Linked DNA regions of Homo sapiens: all the other regions are linked to region 1. A link means that fine-mapping ties the variant in region 1 to the expression of a gene that starts in the linked region. Tissue or cell type: whole blood. Region 1 holds a variant in brackets; each other region holds the start of a gene. Each region is shown on its reference strand, or each on the opposite one.

Region 1 (5,840 bases):
TGATTGGACTAATGTTTTATGAGGATCACTCTATATGCTTTCTTGTAAGTAAATTACAGAGAGGAGAAGATTGACATGGGAAAAGCAGTTAAGGGTCTTTGCAGTAATTTGATGAGAGATGATTATGTGTTGGAATAGATGTTATTACGGAAGGTGCCGCAAGATGGACAGATTTTTGTTATATACTGAAGGCAGAGCTGTTAAGATTTGCTGTTGGATTATATATGATGTGCTATAAACAGGAAGAGCCATGAATGATTCCAAGGTTTTGGATCTTGCGAACTGGCAAAATGTGATTGCCACTTATATTGATGAGGAAAGCGACAGTTGAAGCAGAAGAAGGGCACAGGGTTTTGGATATGTGGATGTTGCGATGAGTGCTAAATATTCAAATGTTGCTATCAAGTGGGCAGATGAATGTACAATAGGGAGTTTCAGGGTAAAGTTCAAAGCTAAGCACATGCATTGGGAATCAGTCAGCATATGAATGGAATTTTATCAAAGCAATGAACCAGCCAGCACCCGGGTAGATAGGGAGTGAGGTGAGAGAGAGAGAAGAAGTCCAAGTCTTGGGACTATAGGTTTCTCCAGTGGTGGTGGTGGAGGAGAAGAGAACAGCAAAGAGGATCAAGGAGTAGTGAGCAGTGAGGGAAGGGAAACATGGATGAGTGTTACCTTTGGAAAAGGGAGATTTTCCAGCACAAGTAGATTCTCAGTGTTGAGAGATACAGAAAAATCATTGAAGATGAACTCTGGGCCGGGCGCGGTGGCTCACGCCTGTAAATCCCTGCACTTTGGGAGGCCGAGGCGGGCAGATCACCTGAGGTCAGGAGTTCGAGACCAGCCTGATCAACCTGAGGAAACCTTGTCTCTACTAAAAATACAAAATTAGCCAGGCGTGGTGGTGCATGCCTGTAATCCCAGCTACTCGGGAGGCTGAGGCAGGAGAATCACTTGAACCCGGGAGATGGGGGTTGCAGTAAGCCAAGATCATGCCATTGAACTCCAGCCTGGGCAACAAGAGCAAAACTCCATCTTAAAAAAAAGACAAACTGACAAGTAACCATTCATCAACACGGAGGTCCCTGGGAAGATGGACATGCGCAGTTTGGTTGGGGTATGGTCACATCATGATGAAGAATTGAGTTTAGGAGAGAAGGGGTAGGGAGAGGAATGGGATACAGACCATATCAAAAGCCATTTCACAGATCTCTTTTGTTAGAAATGAAGCAGACCACTGTGCCGGAAGAGGAATGGCTTGGGAATACATGACCTGTTAGATTGTGTTAAATGCACAATCCATGGAGACCTACCTTTCAATCTCTGTTATTTACCTCTAGAGTTTGGGAAGACCACATAAACTCTTTGACTCTGAATCTACTCTTGTGTAATGTAGGGATGACAATGGTGACCCTCAGGGTGGTTACATAATAAAAATAATGCAATGCGCAGTTACGTGACCACTCAGGTTGGGTATCAATAAAAATTCACTAGACCGGGCGTGGCAGCTCACGCCTGTAATCCCAACATTTTGGGAGGCTGAGGCGGATGGATTGCTTGAACCCAGGAGTTCGAGACCAGCCTGGGCAACATGGCAAAACCCCTTCTCTACAAAAAAATACAGAAAACTAGCTGGGCATGGTGGTGTGTGCCTTCCCAGCTACTCAGAGGGCTGAGGTCAGGGGATGGCTTGAGTCTGAGAGGTGGAGGCTGCAGTGAGCTGTGATTGCACCACTGCACTCCAGACTGGGCAACAGAGCGAGACTCCGTTTCAAAAAAAAAAGTAGTTCACTGTAAGTGTTTAAAGGCAAATAAGTATAGTGGTAGTGGTAGTAGCAGTAGCAGTAGCAGTAGCAGTAGAAACAGTATTTGTTCTGATATTAAAAATCAAACTATATTAACATGTTAGTCTGATTTTGCATTGCTATAAAGAAATACCTGAGGCTGGGTAATTTATTAATATAAGGAAATATGCTTTATTTTGGCTCATGGTTCTGTAGGCTGTACAGGAGTCATGGTGCTGGCACCTGTTTCTGGTGAGGCCTCAGGACACCTACAGTCATGGTGGAAAGCAAAGGAGGAGCCAGCGTATCACATGGCAAGAGGGAAGCAGTGAAGTGGGGAGGCCCCAGGTTCCTCTTAAACGACCAGCTCTTGCATGAACGGATAAAGAACTCACTTATCACCAGTGGGATGGCACTAAGTCATTCATGGGGGATCTGCACCCATGATCCAGCACCCCCCACTAGGCCCCACCTTCAACATTGGGAATCACATTTCAACATGAGACCGGGAGGCGATACACATCCAAACCATATTATTTATTAACTTACTACTTATAAGCAATGCTAATAAGGAAATGCACTGAATATTTTACATCCCCCCTTCACTGAGGTTTCATATCTAGATGTATTTATTTATTATGTATATGGGTCAAATGTCTCATCAATCTCACTGGGACTTCAGAGTATCAGTATTTTTTATTGTTATATAACGCATAACTACAAGCTTATGTGCTTAAAGCCATACCATTTAGTAGCTCATGGTTCTGAAGACCAGACATCCAAGTGGGATCAGCTGGCTCCTCTGCTTAGGTTTTCTCAAGGCCCAAATATGGGTGTTGGCCAGGCCAGGCCAGGCTTCTGTGTAGGTCGGGGGAAGAACCTTACCTCCAACCTTATTCAGGTTGTTGGCATAATACAATTCTGTGCAAATGCGGTACTGAGATTCCTGTTTTCTTGCTGGCTGTTGGTTGGGGGCTATTCTCAGCTCTGGAGATCACTCTCAGCTCTAGAGGTCACTCGTTTGTCTCTTCATGTGACCTTTCCATTTTCAAAGCCAGCAAAGAGATATCAAATCCACATCTTATTGACCTTTCCTGCTGCCACCAACCCAATAGCCAGAGAAAACTTTCTGATTTTACAGGACTTGTGGGATTTGATTAGACGCACCTTGATAATCTCTCTCTTGTCATATAGTGTAACATACTCATGAGGCTAACACCAGGGTGTGAAGGTCATGGGGTCCATCTTAGAATTCCGCCTACCACAGTAATATAACTTTGGAAGTAGTGGATTTAATATTAATAAAATTCTATAGATTTTTAAGAAAAAAATTCCTAAGGGGTTTATAAATTTTATGTTAAATGCAGAAGATCCTCCTAAGTGCACTCAAATGCTTTGGATGTAAGCCAGACATGGTGGTGTGCACCTGTAGTCCCAGCTGCTGGGGAGGCAGACACGGGAGGATTGCTTGAGTCCAGGAGTTTGAGGCTGTAGTGTACCACGGCTATGCCCATGAATAGCTCTGCACTCCAGCCTGGGCAACATAGCAAGACCCCGTCTCTCTGTCTCTCTCTCTCTCTCTCACGCACACACACACACACAAATGCTTTAGATGTAAATGAAAGGAAACTAAATGATAATTCACTTGGTTTGTCGTCATCAATAGTTGTTTTTTTTTGGGAAAGTTAAAGAGTTCTGGGTTACGCAGAGGTAACAGTGGAATATACCAGAAAGTTATAAAGAATAAGAATAATAAAGTAATAAAGAAGATTTCACCTGTAAGGTGAAATACTGATTTGTTTTCTCTAGGAGTTAATAGAGAGAGAAAAGTGAGGAACTGTGGGACTATTCTTTTCAGTGGTTTCCTAAGTTTCTACCAGTCCTTTCTTTCCTTTCACCTGGTCCACCACATTCTTTCCGCAGTGGATGTAAAGCTGGATCCCGCCACGGCGCACCCGAGTCTGCTCTTGACCGCCGACCTGCGCAGTGTGCAGGATGGAGAACCATGGAGGGATGTCCCCAACAACCCTGAGCGATTTGACACATGGCCCTGCATCCTGGGTTTGCAGAGCTTCTCATCAGGGAGGCATTACTGGGAGGTTCTGGTGGGAGAAGGAGCAGAGTGGGGTTTAGGGGTCTGTCAAGACACACTGCCAAGAAAGGGGGAAACCA[C/T]GCCATCTCCTGAGAATGGGGTCTGGGCCCTGTGGCTGCTGAAAGGGAATGAGTACATGGTCCTTGCCTCCCCATCAGTGCCTCTTCTCCAACTGGAAAGTCCTCGCTGCATTGGGATTTTCTTGGACTATGAAGCCGGTGAAATTTCATTCTACAATGTCACAGATGGATCTTATATCTACACATTCAACCAACTCTTCTCTGGTCTTCTTCGGCCTTACTTTTTCATCTGTGATGCAACTCCTCTTATCTTGCCACCCACAACAATAGCAGGGTCAGGAAATTGGGCATCCAGGGATCATTTAGATCCTGCTTCTGATGTAAGAGATGATCATCTCTAAAATTCTGTTCCCAAGATGCAGTCCTAGCGTAGCGAACGTTCCTGGAGTGGGGTGAAGGATATCAATATACTAAGTTTTAACAGATACCCCATTTAGGTCAGCACTTGATTCGTTGTTGCTGTGAAATATGTCCATGGGACAAAAGAGGGAATATGAAATATTTGCATATGGGAAGATTATAGAGCATAATAATTTTGTAAATGGAGCAATCTCAACCTCTATTTCTAGATCACATTTTCTTGATGTCTTCCTTCAAATTAATGACCTTGGATTACATAAGGATTTCTATGCATTCATTATAATTTGTTATTCCTTTCAATATCCTTGTATTTCAAATCTTCCATATAAGAATTAGACATGGCAATTCTTAAATTGATTCAGAATGGTCTGATACTATTCCAGTATCACCTCCTTAATTCTGTTTCTCCTCGTTTTCCTGATTTTCCTTCTCATTCTCTCCTTCCCCGCTCTGTCTCTCTCTCCCTGTCACTCTCTCTCTCTTGTTCCTTATTTTTTGTTTCTTACCTCTTACTGTTTAACCTGTTGCTTCCTTCTGGATTAATACATTTAGAGCCATTCCTTTATATGGTCACATTTCCTATGACTTTACTCAATTACTTTTAAAATCCTTTCTATTCTGAGACTAATTTTTAAGAATTACAAAGCTCATTCTTCTGAATCTAATATCACTAACTCCTAGACTTTTTCCGTTTTCTTTGGATACACTTTAAGTAGGAATTTATCAGAATTTTCATTCAACTCGTTCTTTAATGCAGATATTTACTAGTTATAAGACCTTAAGGCTGGGTGCAGTGGCTCACGCCTGTAATCCCAGCACTTTGGGAGGCTGAGGCGGGTGGATCACAAGCTCAGGAGTTCAAGACCAGCCTGGCCAACATGGTGAAACCCTGTCTCTACTAAAAAAAAAAAAAAAATAGAAAAATTAGCTGGGCATGGTGGCAGGAGCCTGTAATCCCAGCTATTCTGGAGGTGGAGACAGGAGAATTGCTTGAACCCTGGAGGCGGAGGTTGCAGTGAGCCAATATCTCACCACTGTACTCCAGCCCAGTGCGAGACTCCATCTCAAAAAAGAAAAAAGACCTCAAACAACACTTCTCTCTCTCTTTTAGCTGCTTGTTATGGTTCCTATACATGGAACAATTATACTGGCCTCACTGTGTTATGGTAAATATTTAAGGTCATATTTGATATTGCTGGTTTGAATTCAGCTTTTCCATTTAAATACATTATAATGATGATGATGAAATCATGATAATATTTAACTTATTTTTAAAGTATATTCTGTACCTTTCCAACAAAAAGGTTAAAAGTCATTGAAGGCTAACCTTACTGCCTTCTTTGTATCACTGTCTTCTAAATAATTATTATGTCTGGGTACAGTGGCTCACGCCTGTAATCCCAGCACTTTGGGAGGCCGAGGTGGGCAGATCACGAGGTCAGGAGATTGAGACCATCCTGGCTAACACAGTGAAACCCCGTCTCTACTAAAAATACAAAAAGAAATTAGCTGGGCGTGGTGGTG
Region 2 (5,883 bases), not on the chromosome of region 1:
TCCTTCAAACTTCTATTTTTCTCTTAGATTTCCCTGAAACTCTTTTAAAAATTCCTTTTGAAACAAGTGGGTGCCTGACTCATTGCCTATTTCCTCTGTTTTCCACCCAAGTGGTAAACAATGGGCTCTATTCAAATATGGACCGTCTGTGAGCTGGGAACCTGCGTGCAGACAAAGCTCCTTGTCCCAGGGCAGACTGCCAGACCCATGCTCTCCTCCACTCACCTCCTAGGCTGTTTAATAAGGGCCACTTGGCAAAAGGCAACATATTGTCATGGTCCTGTGACCTTGTAGTTCTCTGTCTCTTTTCCCTTCAGCCCGAAAGAATATTTCTCTAAATTCTCAAGTCAACGCATTTGAGAACAGCCTTTCAAAAGATACTTGTAGGAATAACAGAAGGTAGTTCAGGACCCAGTCAAAAGGACTATCTGGCTTTATTTACAATAATTTTAATGCCTCTGTCCTAACTCCTCCAAAGTTATTAATATTTTGTCTGTAGATGGTGGTTGCCAGGAAAGAGAATCTTGCAAAGTCAAGGGCATGACAAAGCTGAGAAATAGAGAAGGCTAGCCTAAGACTTTGGGAAGAGAAAGGTGAAGGAAAAAAATAGTAGGAATCAGACTATGGAACAAGAAGAACGGGACAAAGTTTCAAGTCCAAAGTGAGCAGGTAAGACAAAAATAACTGAACTTAAATGACAGAGTAGTCTTCAGGGAAAAAAAGAGAGAGAGAGAAGAGACTAGAGAACACATTTGCTTCAAGTGCTTGAGGAAAGCACACCTCCAGTGTGTAGAGGAATCACAGGAGGAGATTTTGCATATGGTGTCCAAACTCCCTTCCCAAGAATTTATGTTTCCTGAAGAACACTGCCAACTTCCCCCCTCCATCTTAAAATGGTAAGAAAGAGAGTTAAAGAGAAGGTAAGGGAAACAAATAAATAATTACGATAATCCAGTTATATTAGATATGTGTGCATTTTAAAATAACTTCAACAACCATATGAAATTGTGGCTCTTGTTCCTGTTTTTTTTACAGATGAGAAAATTGTAGCTTATGGAGTTTAAATAATTTGCTCACAGTCACAGAATTAGCGCTAGAATTTAAAATCAAGTGGTATGACTAAAAAACCATGAGAAAATTCATTCCTTCTTTTACAAAACAAGTCACTCTCTACTGACAATCAAACCCAAGTCCTCTAGATTCTCCATAATATTATTTACATCTATCCTCTTCTATCCAGCCCTACTGTCCCTCCCTCATAGCTTACTAAGTTTTCCCCAAAAGCCTCCTGACCTCCCTTCTCTGTGTCCCCCCATTCTTTTCCTTTCTTCTTTCCTTTTCCTTCCTCTCTCAACATGTATCTCATCAATTCCAACCTGCTTAAAACCCTTCAGTGACTTCCCACTGACCTAAGATTAAGTCATTGCTCTCAAATATGGCACTGCTTACCCATTGTTCTGCATATTATATTCTCTCTCCATCACTTTCTATGTTCCAACCACATTGGACTTCTTTAATATCCTCAAAACTACAAGTCGTATACCAGGGAAGGGCTTTTACACAGGCTGTTTATTCACTGTGGAACACTCCCTCCTCCTCTTCTCTTAGCTCAGCCATTCGCAAACTTTTGGGGCTCGGCCCCTTTGTGCTCTCAAATCTTCTGAAGAACCCCAAAGACCTTTTCATTTTAAAAAAGGTAGATTATATCATTATATCATGTTGCAAATTAGAACCAATTCTTTTTTAAATATTTAATTCATTTTAAAACAACATAGTAAACTGATTATACCTTAACATAAATAACATTTTATGAAAACATAGCCACGTTTTCCAAAACCAAAAATACATGAGTGAGACTAGTAGTGCTGTTATGCATTTTTTGCAAATCTTACCAATATCTGGCTTACTAAAGGATAAATGGATTCTCATGTCTGCTTCTGCATTCAATCTGTTGTGAAATCTATGTTATGCAGCTTCTGTAAAACTCCATTGTACACTTGTAATGCAATAAGAATGAAAAGGCAAATGACTTCTTAGTATTATAGGAAAACAGTCTTAACTCCTCCCTAAAAGTGTCTTAGGCAGAGACATCCAGGAAACCCAAGGTATACATTAGGAACTCTTAATTATCCTTAATATCTTGTCTTAAAGTTAAAATTTGCAAAGATGTCTTTCCTGACCTCAAAGAATAGGTCTGAGTCCTCTTGTTATATGTTTCTATAACATTCTTACCTCTCTGTCAAAACACTCACCGTACCTATAATTTATTCAATAATTTGCATAAGGACAGGGACCATACCAACTTTGTTCATAGTGAGTCTCCAGTGCTCAGCACACAGCAAGGACTCAGAAAATCTTTGTGGGAGGAAGCAGGAAATAGAAGGGGGAGAGCAAGGAAGTAAGGCCTCAGACTCAATGACACAGCTCCCTGACAATCGCTCCATTCCTTCAGCAGGATGTACACAGAGATATAACTTTCTACAGCATCCACTGCAGCTCTGGGCTCCATTTCCCTTTGAAATGGGATGGGAGAAAGGGGCAGGTAACAGACTGGAGTGAGGAGACTGAGGAGAAACTGTAGAGAATAATACTTAGGAGTACACGTGCTGGATTCTCTCATTAAGGTAATCATTCAATATTTACTAAGCAGCTACAATTTGCCAGGCATTCTTCTGGGCACTTGGGACACATCAGTGAACAAAATAGAGAAAAGTTTCTGGCCTCAAGCGATTTACAGGCAGACCTGAACTCAACCACACATCCCTCCACTTGAGTTGGCCTGGATTGTTTGTTTAATCTTCTTGTGCCTTATTTCTCTCATCAGTAAAATGTGAACAAGCCTTGAGAGTTTCCAGGTGAGAACTAAATGAAAGAATATCTTTAATGTACCCAATAGAATCAGGCACCTGGTAGGTGCCTAATAAATGGAAATCTTTCTGCTGGCAACTCTTATTCCAAAATTGATTTTTTTTTCATGTACAGAAACTATTCGATAGATTAGAATCCAGTCACTCACAGGATATCACTTGGGTAGTTGTCGGGGAGGGGGAGTGGTGTATTTAGGGTCTTCTCAGGATTCGGGGGGCTGGCTGCAGTGTCATTTTCCTATAGAGAAGCATCACCTCTGGCTTCCTCTCTTCTTCACAAGCCACCTGGATATGTTTACATTGAACTATGCAAGGTACTATTGTAGTCTTAAGCTATGCAGTATTTCAAAACAGACTTTCCTGAGGACTCTTACAAAAATAATTATGCCACGAGTGTCAGACTATTTGAAAGAAGATATTCATAGCCAACTGTTTGTAAGGGACCACCTCCTTACATGGGTTTATTGTGTATCATAGGGTTGCTGGGGTTTTCCAACTTCACCCTCTGAGTGTGGGTTGGCCTTTCTGAGAAAGCTACACTGCCTTTGAAGTAGGACTACCAGGAGAGAGGGGGGAAAAAAAAGTGTAGGGCTCTTTGACTTTTCATTTCCCTTTCTATCTACTTACTCTTTGTGCCTTCTCCAGTTAGTACCACACTAGAGAAGTGTTAGGTAGAGGAAGAGGAAGAAAGAAAAAAGGACAATCTTATCAGTTGATTTTGCTATGTGTTACCAGTCTGGTAAAAACATTTGAAGTTAGAAAGTATTCAAACATGAATAAAGTTTGGGAATTACTTGTATGGATTTAATTTCCTCAGAATACCCTCATTGTTCCTTCGCAGGAAATATTCATGAGTCAACTATCCAGAATCATAGTTATTATTCAAGCGGTGTGGGTTTAAAAGGAGATTTGATGCCATGGCAAACCTCACTGACTTAGACTGTTCTTCAAGTTAAAGAGCAGGATGATGTCTGAAGTGGCTGAAACACATATGGCTTCAGTGTGTCAAGAAGACCTGAAAGATCCCACATGGAAGTGAAATTCATTACTGGCAAGCACGGTGGCAGGAGACCCCAGAGGGCTGAGCCGCAAAGAATTTGCAGAGCCTTATGGCTAACTCCATGGCCTAGTTTGATCTTGAAGTTACTGTCTTGGATAATCCTCTCAAATCTGTTCCTGCACTTAAGAGCCACTCATCACATGACGGAGCTCCCTCTCAGGTTCCTTTACATCGCCCTGTCAGAAATGACTTTCAGGGAACAGACATCACATCAAATCATCCAACAGATGTCCCTTTCAAATAAGTTGGAGCAGAACCAACTATATGGAGAAGTCATAAACAAAGAAACAGACAACCCAGTGATTTCCAGCGGATTGACATTACTCTTTGCACAGAAACCTCAGTCTCCTGGGTGGAAGAACATGAGTTCAACAAAGCGTGTGTGCACTATATTGGCTGACTCTTGCCGTGCTCAGGCTCATGCTGCTGACAGGGGAGAGAGGGGACATTTTGGAGTCCAAATCTTGCATCATTTCATTGAAGTGTTCAATGTCATGGCTGTAAGAAGTAACCCATTTTAATAACTGGCATCAAAGGATTTAGGAGAGAGAAACCCAGTATCCAGACCCATTTCCGTCAGTGACACTCTCCTCGTATTGGGAGGATTGGCCAGAATCGTCTGATTCCTGTTTCTGATTTCCTTCCTCACTGGCATCAGAGTATTTCACTATAGGAAAACTAATATCTAACTGAGCTCCAAGTGCTAAATAACAGCATCTCATGTTCATTCCGGGTCACCAAGAGGTTCAGGGTGACCAAGTCACAAACTATAAATTTGAACATTTGATGATTTTTGCAGGAGACTGGGTGAACAAAGGAAAACCCGAGAGATACATAAAGGTGGAAACTAGGATTTCTCATTTGAATTATTTAACATGCCTCACTCTAATGGTTATAAATGTAAAGGAAATGCAGGTTCTTCAAGAAGGTGAAACGAAGTTACTGAATTTAAGTTTTTTTTTTTTTAAACCTACTTTAGAATAGGAAACATGCTTACTAATATTTACAAGGCACTACAAGGCACCAGCCAAAAAGCCTGATTTATTGGCAGGATATTCTTGTTGTTGTTGTTTCTATTGTCCATATAGGCAGGCAATTAATACTTTTTAGAAAATTAAGTTGCCAACTCAACACTGCCTACTTTTGAATTTTTATTCTAGCAACAGCCGATAATTTATTGGAAATTCCTTATGTGCTGGGCACTACGCTAGACATTGGGAGTACGAAAATTAATATGGTAAAGATCCTGGCTTTAAAGAGTCTTTAACATTATTTCAGCAGTTTTATTACAGGTGTATATGTTGGAATTGACAGAACACTTAGCTCAAAGCAAGGGTTCAAGCATGACTTTGCAGAGTAGATTTCAGCTGAGCTTAAAGGATGTGAGAATAAGTATACACATTTTTTAAATTACCCAGAATGTAGTGCCTACAGAAGTGCTTGAGCCTCAGTTGCTTCTAAGAGTCCAACTTCAGAACTTGTATCTTCTAGATTGAGCTCATTGCTTAATTTCTAGCCAACATAGCCCATCTCTCTCAGCTGAATACTAAGCTCATCAACTTCTCCTTTGATCTAGGTCTTGATTAGAATGTTGAACATGACAAGGCTGAAGGCAGAAACCATAGAAACTTCTATCCAGAGTTACACTCGTCTCTTAATAGCTGCCTACTGTTGCAATCAGAATAAACTCACTTCTTGCCCAATTATGACAGTTCATTCACCTTCTACTCAAGGGAGACTTTAAGAATTGTTGAAGTTGAACTTCTCAGGTTCTTATACTTAGTGACACTGTTCATGCAATGGCTCAGTATTTCTTGATTTCTCAGAACCAGCAAAAGTCACAAACTGAATCCTCAAATTGGAATTCGTAAGTGACTAACTTGTAGCATAACTTTATTATACTAGGAAAGATGGGGCAAGGGACAGAAAAAATATCTGTAACATCTTATATGTTCA
Region 3 (5,791 bases), not on the chromosome of region 1:
TCCAGAGGCTGAGGCAGGAGAATCGCTTGAACCCGGGAGGTGGAGGTTGCAGTGAGCCAAGATCGCGCCACTGCACTCCAGCCTGGGTGACAGAGTGAGACGCCATCTCAAAAAAAAAAAAAAAAAAATCACAGAGTGTGAGGGGAGCATCCAGAGAGGCCTGAAGGGGGTGTCTGAGGAGGAAGAAGGAGGGGAAGGAAAGTGGGGGCTTCCTGGAGGAGGTGGTGTTCTAAATACTGAGACCCATTTCTTTTTTTTTTTTTTTGAGACAGAGTCTCACTCTGTCGCCCAGGCTGGAATGCAGTGAGGCTGTCTCAGCTCACTGCAACCTCCGCCTCCCGGGTTCAAGCGATTCTCCTGCCTCAGCCTCTGCAGTAGCTGGGATTACAGGTGTGTGCCACCACGCCCAGCTAATTTTTTGTATTTTTAGTAGAGACAGGGTTTAACTGTGTTAGCCAGGAGGTCTCCATCTCCTGACTCGTGATCCACCCGCCTCGGCCTCCCAAAATGTTGGGATTATAGGCACCCCGCCAACTGAGGTGCATTTCTTAAGTAGGGAGTGAGGAAGAGAGTTGGTGCAGACACAGGTGATGCAGACACGTTGGGGGGCTGGTGATGAGAAGCGGGAGGGGACCAGGGAGGGCTCTTGAGGGGCCGAAGGATTCCAGGATGGAAAGTGCCCTTTGGAAAGAACCTGTGGCTTTAAGGTGAAGACTCGGTTGATTGGGGGTAGGCGATGAGAAGACCTAGGCCAGGCAGCGGCAGGGGCAGGGGCGCGGGCGCGGACACAAGCTGGGGAGGCAGGATCTCGGGATCCTGAGTAATACAGAGTGGGGAGGGAGCAGTGGCGTGACGTCAGGCTGCGGGGGGATGGGCGTGCCTTCTGCGGGAATGGAAATAGCCCAGTGGAAGGTGGTGGTGAAGGGGTGGGGGCGAGCTCAGCTTCAGACACGCCAGCTTGAAGTGTCAGGAGCCACACTGGAGACCCGGTGTGACCTCTCACACTAGAACTTAGGCAGAAAATGAATGGGTAAGAGGCCAGTGAGCACAGCTGACCCACTCCCTGCTCCTGCAAGAGGGAAGTCTCTCCACGTCCCCATGTCCCCAGTCCTGGTGTTTCAGCCACAATGGAGTTAGGTGCTCTTTGCCCACCCTACAATGTTTTGTTTGAGACGAGGTCTCACTTTGTTGCCCAGGCTGGTCTTAAACTCCTGGGATCAAGCAATCCTCCTGCCTCGGCCTCCCACAGTGCTGGGATTACAGGCGGGAGCCACCGTGCCCAGCCCACCCCTGAGCTTGGACTGTGCTGTTTCTCCATGGTGGGCTGCTCTGCGCCACCTTTCCTTGGTCTGAATTCGGCCCCAGGCACAGCCTTCCTGGCCTAGGCTTTCCTGGAGGGCTTGGAGTTATGGGGGCAGGCACTGGTGTTGCTCTCACTCAGAGGGCGGTCGGGGCTGGAATGGTGCAGGTGAGGGACAAGACGGCGTAAGATGGGGGACAAAGCCAGGGAAAGGATGGGATCAAGCAGGGGAAGGGCAGAGCTAGGGGTAGCCCTGGGTATGCCAGGACCTGCAGCAAAATTGGGGCTACAGGGCCTTGTGACTCCAGGAAGAATGAGGGCGTCTGAGATTTAGGAAGTCCGCAGGAGAGAGGAGAGTGTGTGGAGAGGGTGGCAGGCCACGCAGCACAGAGGTCCACTTGGACAGCCTGACAGATGTCCTTCTGCTTAGAGAAATGGCGGTCACCAGTGACCTTGGCAAGGGCAAGGAGCTGGAGAGGGAAGGGCAGGTGAGGAGGTGGAGACAGAGTGAAGATTCGTCTTCTCAGAAACAAGGGCCGGGCAAGAAAGAGGGAGGAGCAGAAAGGGCCTCTGGCCGTATCTGTTGCCTCCTCTCCTTTGAACCAGGACAGACTTAGGGACTTTCACGGGCTGCAAGTTCCAAGAGTGGCAGACCCAGGCTAGCCTGGGGAAGGGGCTTGAGGGAGGCTCCTGCTGGGGAAGGTGGGGCTGAGTCCAGCAGGAGGGCCAGACCAGGGGCCATGACCCCATTGCCTACATAGAGAAGGTGATGAGCCAGCATCCAGGCTACTCAGGGAGAGCTCTAACCCAGGATGAGGCCTTAGAGCTCAAAGGACACTCAGGCCTGGTGGCAGCTGCCCAGGGCCCCTGAAAGGGGGAATGGAGATCAGGCAGAGGGGGTGCCAGGGACTGCCACACAGGATCAGTAGGGCAGCGCCAGCCCTGGCTGGGCTGCTTTCACGGCTGCGGGAACCGCTCCAACTGCTCCAGAAAGACAGAAAGATGGCCCTGAAGGTGCAGGCTTTGCGTGAGTGGGTGGCTGCAAGGACAGGTGGGAGGACCAGGACGCCAGAACGTGCAGAGCCCGGGGGGCCTCCAGAGGTCGCAGTTCCGACAGGGCTTCCACCAGTCATGCCTACATCTTGAGGGGCAGAGACACACCCCACTAATGTTTGGGTCCCTGATGCAAAGGCAGAGACAGGTGCGGGGAGGGGGTCCTTTTTCTCCGAAGCGAGAGGTGAAGTCACCAACTGCTGGGTCAGAGGCAGTAGGTCTGGGTCTGGAGGAGACTGGGGACAGGGTGGAGGGAGGTGACCGCAGCCACGGGCTGGGACTTCACAGGTGTGGGCTGGGGGCTTTTCCGGACGCTGTGGCAGAGGAGGCCCGCGCGCCGCACATCTGCTGGGACCCTTAGCTCGCCCAGGATTGGTAGGGAGATCCTGGAAGACCAGCGCCCGGAGGGGTGAGGCCCCGTCTTGGGGGCAAGGCCGCGAAACCACGGCCTGCAGCTTCACGCCAGGGGTACAAAGAAAAGCGTCGCCGGGAACCCAACACCTGCAGACGACGCGCAGCCGCAGAGGAGGCGGGGCGTCCGAGGCCCCGCCCCGTATGCTAATGAAGCACACACCACACCGCCCCGCCCCGGCGCGAGACCGGTCCAACGCTGCGGAGATCCAGAGGCCGGCGGCGCCCGGAAACACCCGCGGAGGCCGAGGCAGGGCGGGGCCGGGCGCCGGGGCCGGGTCGCTGGGCGGGCGGCACAGCCCGGGGGAGGTCAACGGGCCGGCCGGGCGTCCCGGGGACGCGTCTCCCCCACGGTGCGAAGTGGTACGGCTCGCAGGGGCGGGGCCCAGGTCATGTGACGCGGCCGCGGCCGCCATTTTGTTCTGCGGTGCTGGTATTTAGAGCGCAGCGGCTGACGGGCCGGATCGCCTTCGCCGCCGCCCGCCCGCAAACCTTCGTGCCCGGCCCGTCCTCGCCCCCGCCTCCGCCACCGCCTCGGCCCGCAGAGCTTGCCCCCTCCCCACCCGCAGACATGTCCGAGTCCAAGAGCGGCCCCGAGTATGCTTCGTTTTTCGCCGTCATGGGCGCCTCGGCCGCCATGGTCTTCAGCGGTGAGCGCGGCGGCGGGAGGGACTCGGGGGCGGGGGCGCGCGCGTTGCTCATGCCCGCAGCTCGCCGGGGTCCGGTGTGTGACGTCACTCTGACGTAATCCCGAGCTGTCGGGGGCGCCCGGGCCTCGTGTGACAGCGGGCGGGGGTCGGCGCCCCGAGGGCTGCGGGGAGCCGCCGGGGGTCCGGGGCGCAGGGCGTGCGGGCCTGGCCGGGGTGTGAGTCTCGGGGGTCCGGGCCGGCGGCCCTGCCAGCCGGGTCGTGCGGTTGCGGGGGTGGGGCGGCGGCGCCGCTGCCATATTAGCCCCGGGAGCGGCGAGAGGGAGGCTGGGGTGGGGGCGCGAGGGGGGCGGCGCGAGGGGGGCCGATTCTGCGGGCAGGTGACATCACACCTCGAAGGCCCCAGTGCGCGGGCGGCGGCGCGGGTCCGGCCCAGGAACGCCCAGCCGGTCGCTGGAGCTTTCCGGCTGGTGGGGAGCCCATGTCCCCCACGGGAGGTCCTCAGCCCTCGCCCTTATGGCGGCCGGCCCCGAGGGTCAGGTGGGTCTCACCCACAGGCAGGTACTTCCGGTTGGAGCTGGTTACAGTTGCCCAATACCCGTGTCGCTGTGTGGGCTGTTTGGGAAAGCTGGGCTGAGGGCTTGGTTCGGAGAGCCCGCGGAGACCCGGGTGGGAGTGTGTGGAAGTGGAGGGAGCGGGGAGACAGCAGCATCGGCGCTGGCGGGGCTGTGTAGCTTGCAGAGGGTCTGTGCTCTGAGGTGGGTGAGAGGGTGGCATGGGTGTCCGAGTTTATGGGATCCAGTCGTTGCCCTCAGGACTGAGGCTTCCAGTTGTGGTCCTAATGAATGGAGGGGTGAATGAATGACCTTCCTTTCCCTCCCTGAGGCCTGAAGTTGGGAGGGGCTTCCCTGGGCTTGGAGAAGGGGCCTTCTAGGGTTCTTGGTGGCACCCTGCTTTTGAAATTGGGCCTTGACAGGTCCTGGGCGTCCAATTTAGTGACAATTGGTCTCCCTGGGAGAATGGCACTTGGGCTAGGGCTAGGCCCAGGAATGTGGGTCCGACGAGTTAAGTTCTGGCCCAGTCTCAGCCTCCGTGGACTGGCCTGGCCTGGTCTGATTTCCGCCTCCGTGGTTAGGTCTGGTTTTAGCTTTGATGACCGTGCCCTGCCCCACCCTGCCTGGTGGCCTGGGGAGGCTCCTAGTGCAGATATGTGGAGGGTTTGAACTCCAAACAGTCTCTGCTGACTGTAAACACCTGTGGGGTGGGGGCTTGGAGCTCTCTGTTCTCTTGCGGGCCTCCTTCTGCCTGGGCCTGTCTGCCATTCGTGAGTGAGCCCTGGCCTTCCCGTCGTGTGCAAGTAAGGGGTCATTTGTGGTGGAAGAAGTGGTCTAGACTTCTCCTTCCCCCTAGGCACCGCCTGCTCTTTCCACAGACTCAAGGCTTCTCCCAACAGGCTGCCGAGCCCTTCCCCCCAGCCTCCTCTGTTCTTTGCCCTCAGAATGCCTTCAGAGATTCCATTTTGCCTGGCCACCTGTGGGGTATTAGCTTGTGGCTGTCACTCATTCATCCAAACAATCTTGATTGAGCGCTTACTATGTGCCAGGTACTGGTAGGACAGCAGTGAACAAAATGGGATCCCCGCCCATGTGGAACTTAAATTCTAGCTGTTGCTGCTTGCCCTTGAAGCCCTGAGTTTGTCCACCAAGCCCTTTTTCTGCACCCAGCTCCTTTCCTCTCTCTCCGTCAAGACCTACACAGGTCTTTGGGCAGCCTGACCAGCAGGTGTCTGGAAATTGAGAACACGGTATTGCTGGCCTAGGCCTTTCCTGCTTATCCCTGGCTCTTCGGGATAAACGTGGCTTACTGTGGCTCTCCAGGAGCTGACCTCTGACTTCACTTGGCCAATTCAGACAACTGCTTTTTTTTTTTTTTTTTTTTTTCTCCCCTCCTCAAGACAGGGTCTTGCTCTGTTTCCCAGGCTGGAGTGCAGTGGTGTGGTCATGGCTCACTACAGCCTCAACCTCCCAGGCTCAAGCAATCCTCCTGCCTCAGCCTCCTGAATAACTAGGACTACAGGCACAGGCTACCATGCCCAGCTAATTTTTTTTTTTTAGAGACAGGGTCTCGCCATGTGGCTCAGGCTGGTCTCAAACTCCTTGTTGCCTCAAACGATCCACCTGCTTCTGCCTCGTAAAGGGCTGGGATTATAGGCATGAGCCACCATGACTGGCTCAACTTCTGACTTCATTTCTGCCTTCTCAGCATGCTTTCCTCCAGGACCTGGCTTCACCTGCTGTGCCGACCTAAACAAGCCCCCTGCCCTCCAGTGGCCTCTGCTGTTGCCACAACGCCAACCTCCAGCTGTGTCCCCAGCTCCTGG

Evidence for each region. PIP is the estimated chance that this variant, and not a neighbour inherited with it, causes the effect. A credible set is the group of variants that fine-mapping cannot tell apart.
Region 2: LINC02915 starts here. The variant in region 1 is fine-mapped to the expression of LINC02915 in whole blood (TOPMed, PIP above 0.99).
Region 3: it holds the start of ATP6V0C, and the variant in region 1 is the best candidate, but not a certain one, in a credible set for the expression of ATP6V0C in whole blood (TOPMed, PIP 0.65).

Annotation. Positions count from the first base shown.
Region 1 is chr1:247,872,193-247,878,032 of GRCh38, forward strand. TRIM58 (tripartite motif containing 58) reads left to right here. Exons shown (of 6, transcript NM_015431.4): 6 at 3,708-5,840. The coding sequence ends at 4,297. Among named protein-coding and RNA genes, the nearest start is that of TRIM58, 18 kb to the left of the region's middle. The variant C/T (reference allele first, on the strand shown) is at 3,957.
Region 2 is chr15:39,248,240-39,254,122 of GRCh38, forward strand. It overlaps LINC02915 (long intergenic non-protein coding RNA 2915), which reads left to right and starts at 2,430. Exons shown (of 2, transcript NR_144508.1): 1 at 2,430-2,624; 2 at 3,820-5,883. All of the region lies in intron 1 of LOC105370777 (a long non-coding RNA gene), which reads right to left.
Region 3 is chr16:2,510,769-2,516,559 of GRCh38, forward strand. It overlaps ATP6V0C (ATPase H+ transporting V0 subunit c), which reads left to right and starts at 3,184. Exons shown (of 3, transcript NM_001694.4): 1 at 3,184-3,414. The coding sequence starts at 3,336. RefSeq lists enhancers at 306-909, 1,700-1,994 and silencers at 2,900-3,379, 3,800-3,939.